Homo sapiens: one gene and its partners. The protein of the gene in region 2 interacts with the protein of the main gene of each other region in a pairwise test. Each region holds a gene or a part of one and is shown on either strand. Other genes may lie near its edges.

Evidence for each region.
Region 1: the proteins of DBT (region 2) and MRRF interact in binary tests that used the Homo sapiens proteins (3 or more experiments, as listed by UniProt).
Region 3: the proteins of DBT (region 2) and GRPEL2 interact in binary tests that used the Homo sapiens proteins (3 or more experiments, as listed by UniProt).

Annotation. Positions count from the first base shown.
Region 1 is NC_000009.12:122,260,750-122,268,130, reverse strand, and holds the start of MRRF (ribosome-recycling factor, mitochondrial isoform 1 precursor), read right to left. Parts: upstream 3,250-7,381; 5' UTR 3,193-3,249; exon of another isoform or gene 2,858-3,192; intron 2,670-2,857; exon of another isoform or gene 2,386-2,669; coding exon of another isoform or gene 2,351-2,385; intron 1-2,350. Other genes in the region: RBM18 (probable RNA-binding protein 18), read left to right, coding at 6,639-6,751. UniProt on the Homo sapiens protein: Responsible for the disassembly of ribosomes from messenger RNA at the termination of mitochondrial protein biosynthesis. Acts in collaboration with GFM2. Promotes mitochondrial ribosome recycling by dissolution of intersubunit contacts.
Region 2 is NC_000001.11:100,211,814-100,219,160, reverse strand, and holds part of DBT (lipoamide acyltransferase component of branched-chain alpha-keto acid dehydrogenase complex, mitochondrial isoform 1 precursor), read left to right. Parts: intron 1-413; coding exon 414-535; intron 536-2,961; coding exon 2,962-3,178; intron 3,179-4,177; coding exon 4,178-4,344; intron 4,345-5,210; exon of another isoform or gene 5,211-5,938; intron 5,939-7,347. UniProt on the Homo sapiens protein: The branched-chain alpha-keto dehydrogenase complex catalyzes the overall conversion of alpha-keto acids to acyl-CoA and CO(2).
Region 3 is NC_000005.10:149,341,321-149,348,747, forward strand, and holds the start of GRPEL2 (grpE protein homolog 2, mitochondrial precursor), read left to right. Parts: upstream 1-4,178; 5' UTR 4,179-4,219; coding exon 4,220-4,296; intron 4,297-6,795; exon of another isoform or gene 6,796-6,951; coding exon 6,952-7,105; intron 7,106-7,427. UniProt on the Homo sapiens protein: Essential component of the PAM complex, a complex required for the translocation of transit peptide-containing proteins from the inner membrane into the mitochondrial matrix in an ATP-dependent manner.

The DNA.
Region 1 (7,381 bases), on a different chromosome or scaffold from region 2:
CTTTAGGTCCTTTACCTTAAGGGTATACAAATTAACATTCAGTTCAGCACAGATAAAGAATTAAAGTTGAAGAAAAATTTGTTGAGATCCCAAGTATGAGCCAACAAAATTAACCTATACATAGAAGCAATGTGGGGAAGTGTCTGAGCTTTGGACGCAGTCTGGAACTGGAATCTCAATTCCCCCACTTACTAGCTGTGTGACCTTGGGGAGGTCATTTAGCCTCTCTGAGCTACAGCTTCCACATCATCATCATAGTGATATTAATGAGACTTTAAAAGATAACAATAATGACAATACCTAACATTTATATAACAATGACTACGTGACAGAAACTATTCTAAGTGGTTTATGCACATGAACTCATTTCAGCCTCATGATAACCCTGAAGTAAGTACTATGATTATTCCCACTTTACAGATAAGAAAACAGAAGCAAAAATCTGCCCAAGATTTGAATTCAGTCAATCTAGCTCTAGAGTCTATGTTATTAACTGCTATACAATGCATATAGAACACTCAGCATGGCTGGGAACAGTGATGGGTGCCTATAGTCCCAGTTACTTGGGATGCTAAGGAAGGAGGATCACTTCAGGCCAGGAGTCCAAGGCCAGCCTTGGCAATATAGTGAGACCTAGTCACTTAACAAAACACATACACACAGTACAATGCCTGGCATCCAGTAGGTACACAATAAATTGTAGCTATTATAATAGCATCCCAACTATTAAATTTTTTTTTTTTTTTTTTTGAGACAGAGTCTCACTCTGTTGCCCAGGCTGGAGAGCAGTGGCACGTTCTCAGCTCACTGCAACCTATGCCTTCCAGGTTCAGGGGATTCTCCTGCCTCAGCCTCCTGAGTAGGTGGGACTACAGGCACCCACCACCACACCCAGTTAACTTTTATATATTTTAAGTAGAGATGGGGTTTCACCATGTTGGCCAGGCTGGTCTCAAACTCCTTACCTCAGGTGATCTGCCCGCCTCGGCCTCCCAAAGTGCTGGGATTACCGGCGTGAGCCACTGCGCCGGCCTGAATTTTTTTTCTTTTTTTTTTTTTTTGAGACGGAGTCTCACTCTGTCGCCCAGGCTGGAGTGCAGTGGCGCAATCTTGGCTCACTGCAACCTCCGCCTCCAGGGTTCAAGCCATTCTCCTAACTCAACCTCCCAAATAGCTGGGATTACAGGCGTGCGCCACCACACCCAGCTAATTTTTGTATTTTTAGTAGACGGGGTTTCACCGTGTTAGCCAGGATGGTCTCGACCCCCTGACCTCGTGATCCGCCCGCCTGGGCCTCCCAATGTGCTGAGATTACAGACTGAAATATTTTTTTAAACTACTTGAAGCACACATTCTTTTTCCAAAGTTGAGGGTCTCAAACGATTTCCCTGTTCTTCACAGAAGGTTCATTTTAATTTTGGCTAGATGACCAACCCAAAATCCTGGCTTATCTACTGTCCCAGCAACTCTTTTCAATGCAGCTGTATACTAGCTTATAACATAAGCACTTCTATGAGTGTGCATATACGCAGGCTCTTGCATATAAAATACTTTCACATGTACCATCTTAACTGGTTCTCATAACTAAAGAGTGATAATCACCACCCGTATTTTGCAAAATAAGAAAAGTGATCTTTCACTTCTCCAGGGCTCCCCCTGCTCCAGGGTCTTCAAACATGCCATTGAATCTCCTTGATGATCTTCCCTCACCTCTTTAACTGTTTGTCTCCGTTTTTATTTCAGATTTCAGCTTAACCATCACTTCCTCAGAGGACGGCTTCCTTGGCCATCTCCTACAGCCCAACTAGGTCAAGTGTCCTGTAGTCTGCTTTCATAGCACCCTTTACTTCATCATAGCACTTAATTCTTAACAATACAAGCTAACATTTGTGTAATTATTTGATTGTCTAATTCCCTCCATATGACTCTAAGTACTACAAGGACTAATCTATGATTTTCTTGTTCACTGCTGTATCCCCAGTACCTGGTACATTGCCAGAACACAGAAGACACTGTGAATGTGATGAATACATCAGTGAAAGTCCAGAAAGATAAATTCCTTATCCAGGGTAAACCAGAATCGGATGGGAATCTACCCTTACTATTATGGTAGGTTCTGGGCTTCCCAGCGTTGCCTCCACTGTCTCTGGTTTGCCAGATTTTTGCTTAGAGATAGTAGATGATGTTCTTCTCTAAATGCAGTACCAGGTAAAGAAAGGTACTTGTAGTATCTGACTATACACAGAATCATTATGCACCTGGCACGGCCAAAGAAGGAATGAGACACTTTAACAGGTAGAGAAAGGGCTTTTGCCTAAGAGTTAAGAGATCTGGATTCCAGTATGCCTACCTTATCACTCCCTGCCATCTGCCATTTAGATTCATAATCACACGTATTCAAAAAGCATTTGCGGCAGCTCTACCACTGACTTGTGACTTGTACCAAGTGATTTCTCCTACGTAGATTTTGTTTCAACCATAAAATGAAGGGGTCAGATCAGGTTTTCATTCTTTCCAACTATAAAGCTTTCCAAAATGGGGGGAAATGCAACAGTGTGGTTTAAAACAAAATAAAGGCACTAAACTTAGAGAAAACTCCGAGTCTTGGTTCCAGCACTTCCTAGGCACGTGACCTTAAATCGGTCAAACTCTCAGGACTTCCGTCTCATCTGTAAAACGTAAATGACAATACTATTTGTCAGGGTTAAGTAAATGGAGAAGGGCTACTGAAATGACAACTGTTTTGCCACTGGGTGGCACAGAGTGGTGGTTAAAAGTCCAGGCTTAGGAGTCGGATAGCCCTAGGTCTGAATTTAAGCGCCCTCACTTTCTGACCGCGTGACCCTGGTAAAATTACCTATGTGAGCTTCCGTTTCTTCATTATGGGAGATAATAATATCTACTCCTATGGGATTGTTCTGAAACTCAAACGTTCCCGTCAAGTGTGCGGCTACTCTTTAGTAAGTTCCTCCAGCATCCCCTAAATTCCTAGCTGGTAAAAGGAGCCCCGCCCCCACCCCATGAGACTCGCTCCAATGCCACAGGTCCCGCCCTCAGCCTTAAAGGTCAAGCTGGACTCGAACGGGTCGGGGACGGTAGTCTGGTCCCCTGAGGTCCCCCAGAGGTCCCTGAGTAAGGGTCTCTGGCACCCAGACCACACGCGCCCCTCGAGGCCCTGTCAAGGACACTCACCAGCTATCGCCCAGGTTACTAAGGAAAGACTCGTGCGACGGCGGCGACCGCAGCTGCGCGGACGTCGTGACGTCACGAAGCCAGGAGGCGGCGCAGGCTTAACGCGTCACGGGCGGCCTGGCAGCTGGCGGCATTGAGGCGGACGCGTCTAGAGGTCCGTCTGACCGCGGCGTCGGGACCTGGTTTCCGGGCATGAGCTGAGAGCACCACGCCGAGGCCACGAGGTGAGTTCGGCCGCGACATGTCCCTGCACCTCAGCGATGGGCCCGCTAAGAGGTCTTACAGGAGGCCGCCCTCGCAGGACTGCATCTCAGGCCCCGCCCCGGATTGTCCTGTCGCTGGCCCGGAAATAACAATCCGAGTAATGACCCTTCGCCTGTAGGAATTCGCAGCCAGAAATCGGGAAGCCAGGGTTCCAGGCATGACCCCACCGCTTGCTGTTAGGATCAGGTGTCTCTTCTTCTCTGGATTGCACTTTCCCCAGATGACTATTTCTGGCTTCCAGAGTTATTGCAGCTCAGCTGGAAAGACAAATGTAACCGCGTTTTGTGAACTCTGGTAGTCTAAAGGATTGTTGCTATTGCAAACGCAAAGCATTTTGATAGTCCCGTGCCGTCTTGATCTTTTATTACCCTTTACCTTTCCTCAAAAAGCCATATTCTGAGCTGTCACCAAAATTGTCTTATTTAAGACTCACAACGACCTCGTGAGACGACAAATTGTACCCATTCTAGGAAGGAAAAAGAAACTAAGTCTTCGAGTGGAGAAGCGGCTTGCTTCATTTAGTAAATATTAAGCACCAACCGTGAGACAGGCAGTGTACTTAAGTGCTAGAAATAGAACCGTGATCAAGATTGGCAAGGTCCTGTGCTGTGGGAGCTTACGTTCTAGTGAAGGAAATAGAAGAGGAAACATTAAGTAATACATTGAATTAGCATTTAGTAGGAGGAAAAAGATGGAAAAGTGGCTATGATATAGAATAACAAGGAACTCTGTTTAGGAAAGCTTTTCTATCGAGAGGATGCTTAAAGAAAGGTCATGTGACTTGCTAAAGGTGCAGTTACTAGGTGCAAAAGTCAGGATTTGAACCCAGACCCGCATAGCCTGCACTCTTACCAGTAAAACATGGTACCTTTTCGTGGTAATAAATATTAATAGCTATTGGTATTATTCCTGATTTTAGACATGAGAAAATCAGAATGTCCTATCATTCAAGTCCCAAATGTCATCTCCTTTAGAGAGGCCTTCCCTCCACTCAATCTATAGTCGTCGAGTCCCTGTCACATCACCCTGCTTAATTGTGTTTGTGGCATGTATCACTAATTATATCTTCTTTATTTATTTTGCTTTTGTTTTGTCCTGCTCCCCTTCCAAATACAAGCATCCAGAGGATAGGGACCTTGCTTGTTCACTGCTCTGACTCCAGTAACTGGATAAGTCCTAGATAATAGAAGCAGTGAATTTATTTTTTGAATGAATGATTTGTTTAAAAAGTAGGGGGAAAGGAAAGCAGAGGGAAGACAAAAATGTGTCTCCCCTGGGATTAAATTTATGTCTGTTTCACCTTTCTCCCAGGAGGTAAGAACAAGAGCTGTGGCTTTTTCATTTGTCTATTTCAGTACATAGCCCAGAGTTTAACAGTTCCTAGTTGCTTGACTTACATTGCTGAACAGATTAAAGATGTGAATGGGAAAGGAAGAAAAATACCCTCATGTGCAGGGTATTCAATAAACAATTACCTAGGGACTGCTGTGCTAGACTTTACAGGGTGTGCTGAGATGATTAAGAGGTAATGGCAGTTGTTGTGACTGCCTCCATGGTTCCTGTAGTGCTGACCTCTGAGGTACTTCTGGGTATAGGATATGTGTTCTCTAGCAGGGACTTCTGAACTCTGACACAGCCTGCTGTCCTCCCAGCCCCTAAAGCTTTATTTCACATCTGTCGTCTCATTTTTGGTCCTCGAAGCCTTAAGTTATAAACAGGGCAAAATTTATTAAAGATGGGTAAACTGAAGCTCAGAAAGAAATAACTTCCAGTGGAAATGCCACAGTTTGTGCTGGGCATGGTGGCTCACACCTGTAATCCCAGCACTTTGAGAGGCCGACGTGGATGGATCACTTGGGGTCAGGAGTTGGAGACCAGCCTGGCCAACATAGTGAAACCCTGCCTCTACAAGAAAATACAAAAATTAGACAGGCTTAGTGGCATGCACCTGTAATCCCAGCTACTCGGGAGGCTGAGGCATGAGAATTGCTTGAACCCGGGAAGTGGAAGTTGTAGTGAGCCGAGATCGTGCCACCGCCCATGAGTCTGGGCAACAGAGCGAGAGTCTGTCTCAAAAACAAAAAAAAAGAGAAAGAAAGAAATGCCACAATTTGAAACAATGTCTTCTGACACCAAGGTTTCTGCTCTTTCTACTGCTGTCTCCATCATAATCATAATCCTCTTTTCTCCTTGGCTGTGAGATGAGACATTTCAGGAACTAAGACTAGTAATAATTTAAGCTAACATTAATTGAATGCTTCCTAGGTGCCATGCACGGTTCTAAATGCTCTAGGTGTATTAACTCAGTGAATCTGCACTGTAATTTCATGAGGCATTATCCCCATTTTACAGATGAGGGAACTGAGGCCAACAGCTGTTAAGTAACTTGCACAGGGCTACATAGCTAGCAAATGGTGGAACTTGAATAACTAAGGAGGAAATTAGTCTCTTCTTCCTGGTCTGTCCCAAAAGAGTAAGCATGATAATAGCTAGTATTTATTGATTACTTACTGTTGTTAGATACAGTATTTAGTGATTTTTTTACTGTCTTTAATCTTCACAACAACTCTATAAAATAAGCACTATTATCTCTCTAGATAATGAGGAAACTGAGGCCTAGAAAGTTCAGGTAGTTCATCAAGTCACACAACCTGCTTTCAAACCCAGTTCTGTCTACGCACAGATTTCTTATATTGCCTCTTCTCTTTGCTATATTGCCTCTTCTCTTTGCTATATTGCCTCTTCCATGAGGAAAAGGGATGGAGTGCTGCTCTTCCCTACCCATCCCTTTTAATGCCATTAAGACTCTTCCTGGTGGTTTCCAAGGCTTATTTTGGGTGACAGTTGTTGAACTGAAGTATCATGTAGTAATAGAGACTTTGGCCTCCTGCCCAGTCAGCCTCTGGCTTCAGAGGAGGAAAACTTTAGTTTCTCCACACAGAACCACGCCCCTTTCACCTTAAATGGCAGCTTGTGTGCCCTGGCTGCCAGAGCAGTTGTCCCAAGGGAACTGGTTCTGGGGCCCTGGTTGTGGAATCACTGAGGCCTTTGAAGGACTGCCCAGAGGGCATGCCCTCCTTGAATAAATGTTTGTTGAGTTGAATTTGAAGTCTTGTGTTCACACATTGTTACTCCCCTCCTGCCTGAATGTTCACATTTCCTTTAGTATTTCATAGACATTGATGGAAGCAGAAACCAAAACTCTTCCCCTGGAGAATGCATCCATCCTTTCAGAGGGCTCTCTGCAGGAAGGACACCGATTATGGATTGGCAACCTGGACCCCAAAATTACCGAGTAAGTCTAAGTTACCTTAGTTTTTTACCTACAATATTGGGATGTTTTGTGGTGATGATGTCAAGAAGAATTTTCAAGGGGTGTGGGATATACTTAGACCCTTTTACTTACATCGTGTCTTCGGAGAGATAAGATGTTGTTAGCCTGTTATCTTGTCACTTTTTTTACATTTGGACTCTGCTACTGCAAGGACACAGACTTGGGTATCCTTTAATCCATATACCTGTTTTTTTCCTATCTGCCAAAGACGTTCTCCCATTTCCAACTATTTGAATCCTTGTACCTAGTAGCTCTAGGGAATTATTCTCTAGAATCAGCCTTGGGAATACATTTGTACCCAGAATAAAGGAACAAGCAGAAGTCTCAGTACCTTTGCAAACAGGCAGAGGAGACCACTTGACTGTAATTCATATTAAGCAGCCATAGAACTATAGAAGGTCAGAGTTGTAAGGAACCTTAGAAATCATGTCCCTTTGGTTTTCATTCATTCATTAAATGATTTGAGTGCCAAGTGCCATGCTAAGCAGTTTGCAGACTTCTTAAATCTGAAGAACCCTGTCTTAGAGTAAAAGTAATAATCAGAGCTGTATATAAAATAAGAGCTCAGAGTTGCTCTGACTAAAAGGGAGA
Region 2 (7,347 bases):
CAGCTAGTCTTGAATGCCTGGGCTCAGGTGATCCTTCTGCCTTGACCTCCCAAATTGCTGGGATTGCAGGCGTGAGCCACTGTACCTAGCCACAACACATTTTAAAATTTCTTGAGGAAAACTCTCATGTTTAAACTTGTAGCTGCTATATTATTTCAACAGGAGTGACATATCCACCAGGTACTAATAATTAAAAAGTACCAGGTACCGGCACACACCCCCCCCCCCACTCTACCCATACCATTAGGATAGTTGTGTTTTCCTATTCTGAAGTAGTTCAACTTTTATACATTTAGACTATAAACTTTAATTTATTTAGATATTATAGGCCACATCTTAGTGGCCTTACTTTACATCTTAGTAAAAAAAAAAAATTTTTTTTCAACTGAAGTTAAGTTTTACCTTGTTACCAGATTCAGAAGAAGATGTTGTTGAAACTCCTGCAGTGTCTCATGATGAACATACACACCAAGAGATAAAGGGCCGAAAAACACTGGCAACTCCTGCAGTTCGCCGTCTGGCAATGGAAAACAATGTAAGTTCTCTTAATATTTAAGTCTGAGATTGTATAGGAAGTGTACATTTGTATCTCTGAAAAATTAGCCAACTATCCCATGATGAAATAGCTCAATGAAATTAAGGAAACATGAAGATATTTGCTACTGAAAAGCAATAGTTGCATAAAAATACATGGGAGAAATGAGAAGTTGTAAACTTATTACTTACTATCAATTGAGCAGTATGATTTTATTATTCTTTCTTAGAGCCTAATAACAGTAAGAGCTACCATTTACTGAGCACTTGTAAATACCAGGTCTTATGTCAGGTGCTCTAGAGGCACAGCATGAGATAGGAATTTGAAGGAGGGAAAACCTGTAAAGGGACTGAAGGAAGCAAGATAAAAAAGAGAAGAGAAGGGAAATTGGCCAGACATGGTTATGGTATCAAGCATCTGGCCTGTCCCAAAGCTTGCCATGGTCCTAAGTAAAAAAAGAAAGACTCTGGCCTGATCTGAGGGTGCAAGGGAGAACCACAGAATTACTGCTTTGAGGCAAGGAGGCCGGCCTTTTGTATTTCCTCTGCCAGTCATTGACTGAATGGAAGGTGGAATGCCAGGCAGGGTGGCTCCCTGGCACTGGGATAGGTATTTACGTATTCTCATTTAACCCTGTAAGATAAGGAGCTATTTTAAGACTTGGAGGGTTTAAGTAACTAGTCTAAAGTCACACAGCTAACATAGCAAGAGCCAGAATTCAAAAGTGAGTCTATATCACTCCAAAACCTGTGCTGTTAGATGTTATATAAACCTCAACAATCATTGCCTCCATTATTTGAGCACATATGTGCCAGACACTATAGACACATCTGTAATCCTCACAAGGACCCTGCAGGCAGGTTGATTAACTTATCTAAAACCAAGTAAGCTGAACTAGGGATTTGAACACAAATCTGTCTGGTTCTGAAACCTGAATACTTTCCACTGTGCCCCACAATGAGACTTTTTGTTTGTCTCTTTTTGAGAAAAGTAAGGTTGCTGTGGGAAAAAAATAAAAGTTTATATTTTGTGAAATATGTAATAGAGTCATTAAAATGTTCATATTCTTTCAGCCAGTTATCCTGCCACTGGGGAACTATCCCAAGAAAATAATCTAGGAATCATTCTTCCTTGTATTTTATATAGCCAAAAATTAGAAGATGCATACACATTCAAATTATGTTATGTATCCTTGATAAAATGTTATGTAACCCTTAAATGTGTTTAAGTATGAAGACCATTTAGCATAACAGAAAATAGATATAGTAACGTGGAACATTAGGTTATTAAGGGCATCAGATGAAATAATGATTTAACATTTTGCTTTGAAATCTATAAAGCATTTTAATAATTTTTTTCTTAATAATATAGAAAGAAATATATAGAAGAAATGTATGATTTGGCTTTCCTAAAACACTCCCTAAAGATGGGTATAGAATACTTGGGTAGAGTGCTTGTATGATTACTAAAAATTAAATATTGGATTTAGTTATCAGAAATCATCTTTTTTCTTTGAATTTGCATATTTATGAATTGAGTTTGTTTAAAATTAAGAACCAGTGGCATTTACAGTTGTTTGTAACTGCCTAAAAATTATTTGTTTAAATTTTCATAGTCCATTTGTTACAAACTTAGTGTTTGCCTTAGTAAAGTCCTTTATTATTTTAGTCATCCTTAGAGATGCACTAATACAAATGAAATGGGGCCTATCCCTAAGAAATTAATACATACTATATATGAGGAGATCATTCCAAGCTTTTATGTTTATTTTTATTTAAATAGAATTAAATGTTTTGTACTGATCTTTCCAAAGCAACTACCAGAAAAATAACTAATTTGAGAGAGCTTTTGTATTATGATTATTTAAGTTGTTACGTTTTTAACTGGTAGCCAGTGTCAGAAACATTGGTCTAAATTTGGTATAGCATTTAGTTTCTCTTAAATTCTCAGCTCTCCCTCTTCTTATGTAGTCCCCAAGAATAGAAAAGGTCGAGTAAGAATTATGCAAGAGATTTTAAAATACTTGAGTATAAAAATGTAAGTTTTCAGCTGGGCATAGTGGCTCACGCCTGTAATTCCAGCACTTTTGGGAGGCTGAGGTGAGAGGATAGCTTGAGGCTAGGAGTTCAAGACCAGCCAGGGCAACAGAGTGAGACCCTGTCTCTACAAAAAATTTTTTTAAAAAGTAAGTTTTCATAAATAGCTCTAGATTATATATAATATAGATACCTGATGGTTACCACATGCATATGTGAACAGTATATACAAAAGTAATGATTACTTAAGTAGAAAATGAAAAGGTTATTTCCTTTTACTAATTTATTGGACAGATATATTTTACTGTCAGTTGATCAAATTCCATTTTGAAACTTTAATGATGTTTTTAAATAGTTGTATTTTTGGCATTAAAATATATCATTTTTTAGATTAAGCTGAGTGAAGTTGTTGGCTCAGGAAAAGATGGCAGAATACTTAAAGAAGATATCCTCAACTATTTGGAAAAGCAGACAGGAGCTATATTGCCTCCTTCACCCAAAGTTGAAATTATGCCACCTCCACCAAAGCCAAAAGACATGACTGTTCCTATACTAGTATCAAAACCTCCGGTATTCACAGGCAAAGACAAAACAGAACCCATAAAAGGTAATGATAATAATAACAATACTATAAGGCAATAGTTCATTTATTTTGGGGGAAGCTACCTCAGTAGATAAATGTATATAATATGGTGTTTTCAAGTCTTACTGAAGGGAAAGTTCAACTTCAGTCAGCATATAATTTTTCTTTTCTTTTCTTTTTTTTTGAGATGGAGTTTTGTTCTTGTTGTCCAGACTGTAGTGCAGTGGCACGATCTTGGCTCACTGCAGCCTCCGCCTCCCAGGTTCAAGCAATTCTCCTGCCTCAGCCTCCTGAGTATCTGGGATTACAGGTGCACGCCACCATGCTCAGCTAATTTTTTGTATTTTTAGTAGAGACAGGGTTTCATCATGTTGGCCAGGCTGGTCTCGAACTCCTGACCTCAGGTGATCCACCCTCCTCAGCCTCCCACAGTGCAGGGATTACAGGCGTGAGCCACTGCGCCTGGCCATAATTTTTAAATGGTGAAATAGCATAGCTTTTCCAGGAAACACTTACAATTTATGTGTATCATTATCTTCTGAAGAGTAATACGTTAGCAGGTTTCTTGAAATATAAACTTGTATATTGATAATTGCTCTGTTTGAAGACACACAGGACATTTTAAACATTCACTATTTGTAGTTAGCTTTCAAAATAACTAGTTCTGATTTGTTATTTATAAACTCCTGGAATGATTAACTTCCAGAAGAGTGGCTTTGCAGGAAAGCTGTTAGGGAAATACATGGCTTGCATTCTTTTGAATTTTTTATATAACACAGCATTTAAAGCAGTTACCTGCTATGTTATTGCATTTGCCACTGAGTGTCATGATGCAGTCAGTGTTCCAGCTTTGAAATTAGTGACTTTCAGTGTAATGTAATGAAGAGAGTAGTAAGAGGAAGGGTTTAACTGAGAGAGTAAAAGACATTAGAGAACCTTCCATTTTAGTTTCTTTAAAAAAAAAAAAAAGGATGAAGAGATTTGAGAATTTAAATAAATGAATAACAATTTAATGCTTTTCAGGCTTTCAAAAAGCAATGGTCAAGACTATGTCTGCAGCCCTGAAGATACCTCATTTTGGTTATTGTGATGAGATTGACCTTACTGAACTGGTTAAGCTCCGAGAAGAATTAAAACCCATTGCATTTGCTCGTGGAATTAAACTCTCCTTTATGCCTTTCTTCTTAAAGGTGAGATTCATTCATTTCAAACAAGGCTTGAGTAGGACATTTATTTGTTTGTTTGTCTTTTTGAGACAGAGTTTTGCTCTTGTCACCCAGGCTGGAGTGCAATGGCACAATCTCGGCTCACTGCAACCTCCACCTTCCGGGTTTAAACAATTCTCTTGCCTTAGCCTCCTGAGTAGCTGGGAATACAGGCACCTGCCACCACGCCTGGCTAATTTTGTATTTTTAGTAGACACGTGGTTTCGCCATGTTGGTCAGGCTGGTCTTGAACTCCTGACCTCAGGTGATCCACCCCCGCCCCAGCCTCCCAAAGTGCTGGAATTCCAGGCGTGAGCCACCATACCTGGCCCCAAGTAGGACATTTAAATTTTGCTTTGCCAACATGCAATATGTTGACTGTGGCCTTGAATAAAAATATTACTTTTCGCAACATCAGATAGTTAGAAAATGTGCCATTTCTTTGTTCAATAGGAAATTATAAAATTGAGATTTCTGTACTATATTTTTAGCTGCTTATCTTTGAGCTAGGTAGAGACAATTCTGCCAGTTAAGTAAAGCCTCTGATCCTAAAAGGATCACTCCAACCAAGTCTTGGTTTGAACTAAAATGAGACTTGATATTAATTTTGCAATATCACTGACATATATTTAATATTTATTTTCATTTACTCAACCAACTTATATTGAGGATCCTGGGAATCATTTCTAGTGCTAAGCCTTGGGACCAGTATAAAATGGAGTAAGACCATCAGCTAACCTTGAGCAGCATACAGTCTAGCTCACATTAGTGACTGTGCAGCAGCTACCATGTGCCAGCCTCCATAGTAAGCATGCTGTATACATTATCTCTCTCTTTTTTTTTTTTTTTTTTGGTATGAATCTCATTTATTGAAAAGATTATTTCTCACCTTTCTCAAATTGAAGACTGCAAAAAATAAAAGCAGTGCTTCATTGAGTTGTCATGAGCCTGGGGCAGGAGCAGCAGCGCTGCCTCTCCACGCTCCGGGAAACCGCAGCTGGCGTGTGCCACATCGGTCCCACCTCGCTTTACAAAACAGTCCTGAAGCTTAATCAAATAAAACTATTGAACACAACATTTACATTAGAAAAAGAGAGCTGGGTGTAGGAAAGGCCGAGCCTGGTGTTCCCTTTAAGCGAAGGTGGCTCCACAGTTGGGGCATCTTCGCTCCCTCAAGGCAAAACAGCAAATGAACCCAAAGGGGAACAGGATGATGGCCAGGAAGATGCCCAGGAAGGTGAAGCAGTCCTGCAGCCCCCCGACCCTGCAGACGGGACAGCCTCCCACGACCACGATAGAGTTGGTAGGATAGCGGATGACGGTCCAGCTGTGGATGTTGTAGACCCTGGGATGGTGGGTGGGTGTCCGTGTGACGAGGTAGGAGTAGGGCGGCTGCGGGGGCGCGGCGGGGATGGCGCCGTAGCCGTGCGGGCCTCACGCGTAGTCGCCCTGGCCGGCCTCCAGGTTGTAGGCGGGCGGCCGCTCCTGCAGCAGAGTCTTGTGGTCCATGGCGGCCCGGCTCGGCTCTGTCGGCCCCGGCGGGGACGCGGCGCACGCCCCGGGTGGCTCGGGCCCCTCTGAGGCAGACGCGGGGCAGGGCCCATTATCTCTTAATTCTCAGAGTAACCCTGACATGTAAATATTACTGTCTCCACTTTCCATTTAAGGAAATTGGGGCTCAGAGAGGTTGAGAAACTTGTTAAGGACTTACAGCTAACAGGTGGAGAAGCTCTTTCAGGTTCTGGTCTGTTTTACTCAGAAGGACATACTGATGTCTGTAATGCCAACATGTCCAGTCCTTTCTCTACACTGCACCAAGACTGGTCTTCCGTAAATCAAATTACTGTAATATTCTCTGATTCTTTTCAGTGGTTCCCTTTCATTACCTTCAGGATAATTTGTATGCCATACTCCTTAGTGTGGCATACAAATGTGTTATAAGTCTCTGCTGCCTGCCTCTCCATTCTTACCTCACTCCCTCATATTAAGGTACCCATAATTGCTGGAATACACAATTCCACCTGAAGTGCCCGTTCTTCTCGATCAAACACCTGCAAATCCCAAACTGTGGTCAGGTACAGACTCCTTCTGTGGCTGTCACTATTTGAATTAAATACTTTTGTTTCCCACTGTTAACTTATCTCAGTGCATTGAGTGCTTACTCAGTTTTCTCTTCACTTACTCACTTACTGGGCGCTGAGCCTCATGAGGCAGAAACTATTCTTCTTTATCTCCCTTTTTCTTTCTTTCTTCTTTTTTTTTTTAGAAAGGGTTCACTTTGTTGCCCAGGCTGCTGGAGTGCAGTGGCACAATCACAGCTCACTGCAACCTTGAACTCCTGGGTTCAAGTGATCCTCTGCCTCAGCCTCCCGAGAAGCTGGAACCACAGGTGTGCACCACCACACCTGGCTAATTTTTTTTTATTCTTAGTAGAGATGTGTCTCGCAGTGCTGCCCAGGCTGGTCTTACAGGGATGAGCCAGCATGCCTGGCTATTTTGTTTTAAAATAAAACATAAGTTTCAGAACATTCGAAAAAATACTACACAGTATTGTAGAGGGGGAACAAATGACCTAATCCATTGACACATACCTTGTATTTTCTTGGACAAAATTTGGATTATACTCAAATATTTTTATATGTAACAGTTTAGACTAACCTTAGGGGTTTTTAGATAAAGACTATTAAAATTACAGTTATTGAATCAAATGCTTACTAAAACTTTCAAGTTGGCTGGGCGCAGTGTCTCACGACTGTAATCCCAACACTTTAGGAGGCCAAGGCAGGCAGATTGCTTGAGCTCAGGAGTTCAAGACCAGCCTGGGCAACATGGTGAAACCCCATCTCTACAAAAAATACAAAAGTTACCTGGGCATGGTGGCACACGCCTATAGTTCCAGCTACTCGGGAGGCTGAGGCAGGAGGGTCACTCGAGCCAAGGACGTTGAGGCTACAGTGAGCTGAGATCATGCCACTGCACTGCAGCCTA
Region 3 (7,427 bases), on a different chromosome or scaffold from region 2:
AACCTGACCAGTAATCACCCACTGATTAGTGGCAGAGCGTAGGACTTAGGGGTTATAAGCCCAGATCCAGATAGGGCTAGGTTTGAGCCATGCCTCTAATGACCAGCTGGGTGACCTTGGGAAAGTCACTTGATTGCTCTGATTCTTGTTTTCCTTATCTGTGAAATGGGACTAACAATTGTTACTTTTCTCCCAAGATTGTTGGGAAGATTTAATAAGATAATATATAGTAGGCATCTTGCATAGTGTCTGAGAAATAAGAAATGCTCAGTCAATAGTGGCTCTCATTAGCCAGGCATGGTGGTACTCGCCTGTAGTCCCAGCTACTCAGGAGGCTGAGGCAGGAGGACCGCTTGAGCCCAGGAGTTTGAGACTGTAGTGCACTATGATCACGCCTGTGAATTGCCACTGCACTCCAGCCTAAGCAAATAGCAAGACCCCATCTATTAAAAAAAAAAAGTGGCTATTATTAGCTATATCAGAAATGTCTGACTCACAAGCCTGTGTTCTTTCCACTGAAGAGGAAATTACTTTTCAGTGTTCTTTTTTAAAACGTGGATCCTGAAATGTCACCTAACTCTCCAACTATGTCTTCAGTGTCTGTCATACTCTTTCTTATGCAGTTATTTTGGGGTTAAGTGTCTTTTCTCACCAACAGATGAACTCTCAGAGGAGTGGCTGGGGGTAATTAATAATTAACATTTATCAAGCACTCACCATATGTCAGGCACTGTGTCAGCCATGGCCAGCTTCACAGGCATGCAACCTGTGCAGTCACACAGGGCCCCATGCTTAGAAGGGCCCTGTTCTTGGTTTAATGCTCTACTATTGCCTTCTTAATCATATTTGAACAAGGAGTTCTGCTTTTCCTTTTGCCCTTTAAATTAGATAGCCAGTCCTGGTGCTAACTAACCACTTTTCTAGGTATTATCCCTTTAGTTTTCACTGAAACCCTGAGATAAGTTATATTGCCCTAGTTTTCACAGTTCAGGAAATGGAAGCTCACAGAGGTCAGGTAACTTGTCCAAGCTCCCATAGTTCTTATATTTACATGCTGGTGGAGCCAGCATGTGAATATAAGAAGTCTGACCCTAGAGCCTTATTCTTAATTTTAAAGCTCTATGTCATCCATATATCTCCCTCCCCTTGTACTGCAACATTCAGAAGCACACTAGCACTTAATAAATAGACGAATGAATGCATGGATGCAAGCAGCAACCTGGTGAACGTTAGGCAGCTAGGAGAAATGTAAGCAAAATGGCTAAGGCACAGATGCCACTTGTTCTTGGTTGTTAAAATGCCTTGTTTAGGCCAGGTATGGTGGCTCATGCCTGTAATCCCAGCACTTTGGGAGGCCGAAGCGGGTGGATCACTTGAGGTCAGGAGTTCAAGACCAGCCTGGCCAACATGGCAAAACCCCATCTCTATCAAAAATACAAAAGTTAGCTGGGCACGGTGGCACATGCCGGTAGTCCCAGCTACTTGGGAGGCTGAGGGAGGAGAATCACTTGAACCCGGGAGGTGGAGGTTGCAGTGAGCCGAGATCGCACCACTGCACTCCAGCCTGGGCAATAGCAAGACTCCATCTCAAAAAAAAAAAAATGCCTTATTTGGTTGTGTTTTTTCAAAGTGTAAGCCACAGGTCTAAGCCCAACACTGCCAAGTGTTCAGTCTGTCAGAATTCTACTGTCACTGTTTCCTTATTGCGGGATCTTGCATAGGTTTACCAACCTTTCTGAGCCTCAATTTTCTCATATGTAAAAGAGAATCATAATACCTCCCTAAACCATATCACCCTTTTCATAAGGCCAAAAAGAAAATATAAGTTATTGGTCATGACACATTTGAGTTGGACCTCGGATTAGATAAAAAGATGAAAATACTCCAGCTCTGTCCTCATGGAACTCAGAGACAAGCAGGAAAGAAAATGTGACCCAAATAACTACAGTACAAATAACCCATGTTATGACAAGATTCAGAGTGCTCAAGGAACACTTCCCATTCCCTTAAAAAAAAAAATTAAGGGACTATCCAGTAACTAAGCTGGCAACTCCAAGTGCCCTGGACCCCAGTCACCAATCCATCCTCTCAGTCTGTCAGCTTTCCATCCTAAATCTCTAAAATTCATCCATATCTTCCTATCTTCACTGACACTATCCAACTTAATTAAGTCATTCAACAAATACTTGAGTACCTACTATACTAGATGTCAGAAATCAGTGGTGAACAAGACAGACACCTCATGAAGCTCACATTCTAGTTGGAGGAAAAAACCTTAACAAGGAAGCAAAAGAAATAAAATACTAAGAAACTAAAAGGGTGCTGGACACAGTTACTTTACAGTGGTTAGGAAGGTCTCTCTCTGTTCTTCCAGGACAGAATATAGCCCCATCTTGCCTGGGCTACTGCAACATATTGCCTTCCCTACCTCTTTTCTTACACCTTGCAATCTGCTTCACACAGCAGTCAAAGTGACTCTTTAAACATGAAAGCCTTTGTCACATGTTCCCTGTCAATCTAAAATAATTTAAAAGGTCAGAATCTAGTTTAAAGAGAGTTTATTCAAGCACAAAGGTTGAGGATGGCCTGCCCAGGAAGCACAGAATGGAAAAATATGTCTGTCTTAAAAAAGATGGAAGTCAGTGTTCCAAAGTGTGAAAGGTTGGGTTCAGTGAGGTTTAACAGAATTTCAACATCTTTCTATGCAAGGCTTAATGCACAGTTACAATGATCTGAGTAGTTAAGGTGGTCTTTTTCCTTCAAGAAAGGTACATTTAACATCACATCCTGCAGATGTAACTGTCATGGGGTCAGTTCAGTTCAGGGCACCATCTAGTCTGAGTTAGGTGCAGGACAATAAAGGAGGCTGTCTATTACAAACATCAGTAATTGAGAGGGAAGAAATCTGGTCTCTGCTCTTTCCTAGTCATTACAGAACAAGAACAATGAGGAAGAGAATTAAGCTATAATTCTAAGAAGCAGAACTACAAAACATGCTACATGGACTCAGACCACAGCCACATCTCTCTCAAAGCTTCAAGTATTTGGGAGGTTCCAACAGCTTTTAGGTTTTATTTATTTTCACATTCCATTGCAATCAGAATCAGACTAAATTGCATTCAGCAAAAAAGTTTTTTGAAGCCGGGGGCGGTGGCTCATGCCTGTAATCCCAGCACTTTGGAAGGCTGAGGAAGGCAGATCACCTGAGGTCAGGAGTTCAAGCCCAGCCTAACCAACATGGTGAAACCCTGTCTCTACTAAAAATACAAAAATTAGCCGGGTGTAGTGGGCGCCTGTAATCCCAGCTACTGAGGAGGCTGAGGCAGGAGAATCACTTGAACCTGGGAGGCAGAGGTTGCAGTGAGCCGAGATCGTGCCACTGCACTCCAGCCTGGGTGACAGAGTGAGACTCCATCTCAAAAAAAATAATTTTGAACACCTACATTAGGGCACTGCTCAATGGGAATGAATAGACAATATCTCTGCCTTAAAAGAGCTTATATTTTAGTGAGAGGAAATGAGAAAATACACACTATTTAAAAAAACAATTCAGTCGATAAGAAGGGCATTAGAGAAAAAGACTGGGAGGAGTGATGGGCAATGGTTCAGGCTGCGATGTTTTAAACCGCTCACGTGATCTAGCCCTTCCTAACCACCAGTCCTGTTGCCCTCCCGCCTCAGTATATTTCAGTCCCTTACATGCAATACTCTTCTCTCTTTATTAGGCTTCTGCAGATGTTTCCCTCTGCCTGAACCCTTTCTTCAGCTCAGCTCAAATACCCCCTTCCTCTGGGAAAACTTTCCACAAGGCTAGATTTCTATTCTAGGCTTCCGCGACACCTGCCCCTCACCTTCAAACACCGCTCATATTCTGACTTTACATCCCGCTTGTATCTGTTTATCGCTCATAATATCAAGTAAGCTCCATGCGGGCACAGCTATGATCTGCTTTCTTTGCTGCCGACCCTGCGCCCAGCACGGAGACTGTAGTTACTACTAGGACCTCGCCTACCCGCGGAACACACTGAGAGCCGGAAGTGTTGCCTTAGCTCCGGACGACCGGATGGGGAACGGCGCGGCCCATCGGGCAACCGGAAGCATAGCGTTCCTGTCCGGAAGTCCTGAGAGGGAAACGCCCGCAAAGGCTGGTTTTTAAGCGGGAGCATCTCTTCACTCGCAGCAAGTGCGCGTGCGCTGCCTCTCAGCCCAAATTGGAAACATGGCCGTACGGTCGCTGTGGGCGGGCCGGCTGCGGGTGCAGCGCCTACTGGCCTGGAGTGCCGCGTGGGAGAGCAAGTAAGCATTGCAGGCGGGGAGTCGGGAGCGTGAGGACTCTGAGGGGCTAGCGAGCCAGCCGGGGTGGTTGTGGGCTGGAAGGCGAGAGCTATCTGAGCGTAGGCCAGGGGACCAAGCTTCTCGGCCTCTACGACCGTGCACTCACGGCCCCATTTTACAGACGGGGAAACTGAGGCCATCAGCCGTGCCTCTTTCTTAGGCCGAGGAAGGTAAGGAGATCCGAGGTCATGCATGGCCTGGAAGGTGAGAAGTCTCTTAAGCCCCCAAGGGAGGGATGTACCACTCTCCCGGCCTCTTCTCCCAGCCTGTGGTACCTGTGGGTAAATTTGGGTTCTCTCCCCTCACTCCGTGTGACCTAAGGCCAGTCCTTTCTCCGTTATCCGGGCACTGTTGTACCTGTCAGTAAAAGGAGGCCGCTGAACTTGTTTCTCCAAACGGCCATTGCATCAGCCTTCGGAAGACAAGTTCCATCGGCAGCTTTTATTGGTCGCTTACGAGGCCGACTGCAGAATTATGGGTGGTTCTTTTTATTATTACCCATTTAGTAGTTAAGGAAAGTGAGGTTTAGAAAAGTTGAGTAACTTCCAAACTTAAATATTTGGGAAGTGGTGGAACCCGGGCTGGAAACCAGTCAGGGCGTTGGAATCGGCGCTCTTATTTAATGAGCGATGTTAATTAATTTTCTCAGAGACTGTTGCCCCTACACTGTTTCTTCCTGGGATAGAGAATAAAAATAGTTGAGTACGAGGTAGGGTTGGACCTCTGAATAGTAAAGTAAGCTACGGGAGAATCTGGTAAATGTGCTTAACTACATATGTCACCCTTTTTACCTTAACACACCTGACCCAACATCCTACCCTAGCACCTAAGTGAGAGGTTGCATTCAGGGTTTCGGGACTTGGTTTTGCTTACCGTTCTCAAGTCTTTTTGGCAGCTTGTTGGTGATGTAAGGAAATGACCAGAAGAAAAATGGTTCCTTCTGGTAAGCTGTCTCCCTACTCCAGTTCTGAAGCAGTAGGAATTGAGATTGGCCACAACTCCCCAACCCTATTTCTTGGTCTAAGCTTTGGCCATTTTCCCTTTGAACTGGCCCTGAGAATTTTTTTTTTTTTTTTTTTTTTTTTTTTTTTTTTTTTTTTGAGACGGAGTCTCACTCTGTCGCCCAGGCTGGAGTGCAGTGGCACAATCTCGGCTCACTGCAAGCTCCGCCTCCCGGGTTCACGCCATTCTCCTGCCTCAGCCTCCCGAGTAGCTGGGACTACAGGCGCCCGCCACTACGCCCAGCTAATTTTTTGTATTTTTAGTAGAGACGGGGTTTCACCGTGGTCTCGATCTCCTGACCTCGTGATCCGCACGCCTCGGCCTCCCAAAGTGCTGGGATTACAGGCGTGAGCCACCGCGCCCGGCCCCTGAGAATATTTTGACCTGCTTTTTCAAGTGGATAAATGTGGTTTTTTTAGGGAGAAGATGTTTCACCGTGTGTAATTAGCCCCAGATCTACGGTGACCATATTTTCTGACCCCAAAATGTGGAACTGTCTATAAAATCACACACCGGATTATAATAATTGAATTTAAGATCAGCTTGGAAAGTAGGAGAGATAAAAGTCCTCTTGCTTACACCTTTAAACTAGCTATTTGCTCTGCCCAGGATGCTCTTCCCTTTTCTAAAGCTGACTCCTTTACCCTCTTTAAGCCTTTGCTCAGCTGTCTCCGTGAGGACCACTCTACAGTATATGCCAGTCCATAAAAATTGTTTTAAAGAACTCATGTACTCACAGATTGATTTTCAAGATAATTTTACTTACAGTCAAATTACGAAGATCCAGGAGTTGCAGTGGAAACTTCCTTGAACTGGGCCAGGTCAGGACTGCCACAGCCCAAGATTTGCTGTAAACTAGCCCCTAGTCTAAATTTATTTCTGTGTAAACTGAACTAAATGTCAAAACAGTTTAGCTGTACAAAATTCTAGATTACATAACTAGTTGAATGCAAAGATCTATTTTCACCTGTGTCTATTCACCGGCAGTAACATATAGTATTGTATAAGTATTTCATTGACTTGATCTTATTTATAGGTGGGAATTTCTTTCTCAGCACAGGTCTCCTAAAAGCCTTACAGGTTGTGGTGAGGAAGGCTTAGAATTCTAAGCCTTAAGGTCCCTTTACTGGACTTAATTTCCCTCATCTGTAAGTTAGAAGGTTGAACCAGAACTATATGACTTTTTGAATGCCCACTTCTGACAATGCTCCTCTGGTTCTGGGTACTAGCATTTGGTTTCCTTATGCTGACTTTTGTATACCCAGTTCTGGCTATTTCTGCTGCCTGGTTCTTAGTGTCCTGACCCAGCGGAATACCAACTATGTGATCTTGAGCAGGCCATTATGCCTTAAGCCTCTCAGCATCAGTTTTCTCATCTGTAAAATAGGGATAATGATAGGACTTATCTCACATATTGTTGTGAGAGGAAAAGATGACTCAAGTAAAACAGTGTCTGGTACATGGTAAGGACTTCGTAAGTGTTCATTTGTTACTATAACTGAAAACACTTTCTCCAGAGATTCCATCTGGGAAGATCTCTGGTCTCTAAACTTGGTTGTAATTTTGGCTTATGATGGCATTTCTTCATTATGTGCCACCTCCTTCCTGTTTTAGGGGATGGCCGCTTCCATTCAGCACTGCCACCCAGAGAACTGCTGGTGAGGACTGCCGTTCTGAGGACCCTCCTGATGAGCTTGGGCCCCCTCTTGCTGAACGAGCCTTAAGGGTAAAAGCTGTTAAACTGGAGAAAGAAGTCCAAGATTTAACAGTGAGTCAATTTTATATTTCTTCTTCATATCCTCTCTCTAGTTTAAATATCCACATAAAGTTTTTTATGTCAATTTTCAAAATGAAGTTTTCTTTAATTGGCTCTTTATCTGCTACCCCTCATCCCTCCTCCACTCCTTGCTAGGTATACTGGGCAGAAAAAAACTGTAGTAGTTGAAAAACACCACTGGCTAAAGATAGTCATCTCTTTTCGGTTTCCTGTTATGTCACAGCACTTAGATATCTGATGTTTCAGCAGATTAAAGGAGGTGTACAGTGCCTGGAATATAGTAGACAATAAATATTTGTTGAATGAGTGAGGT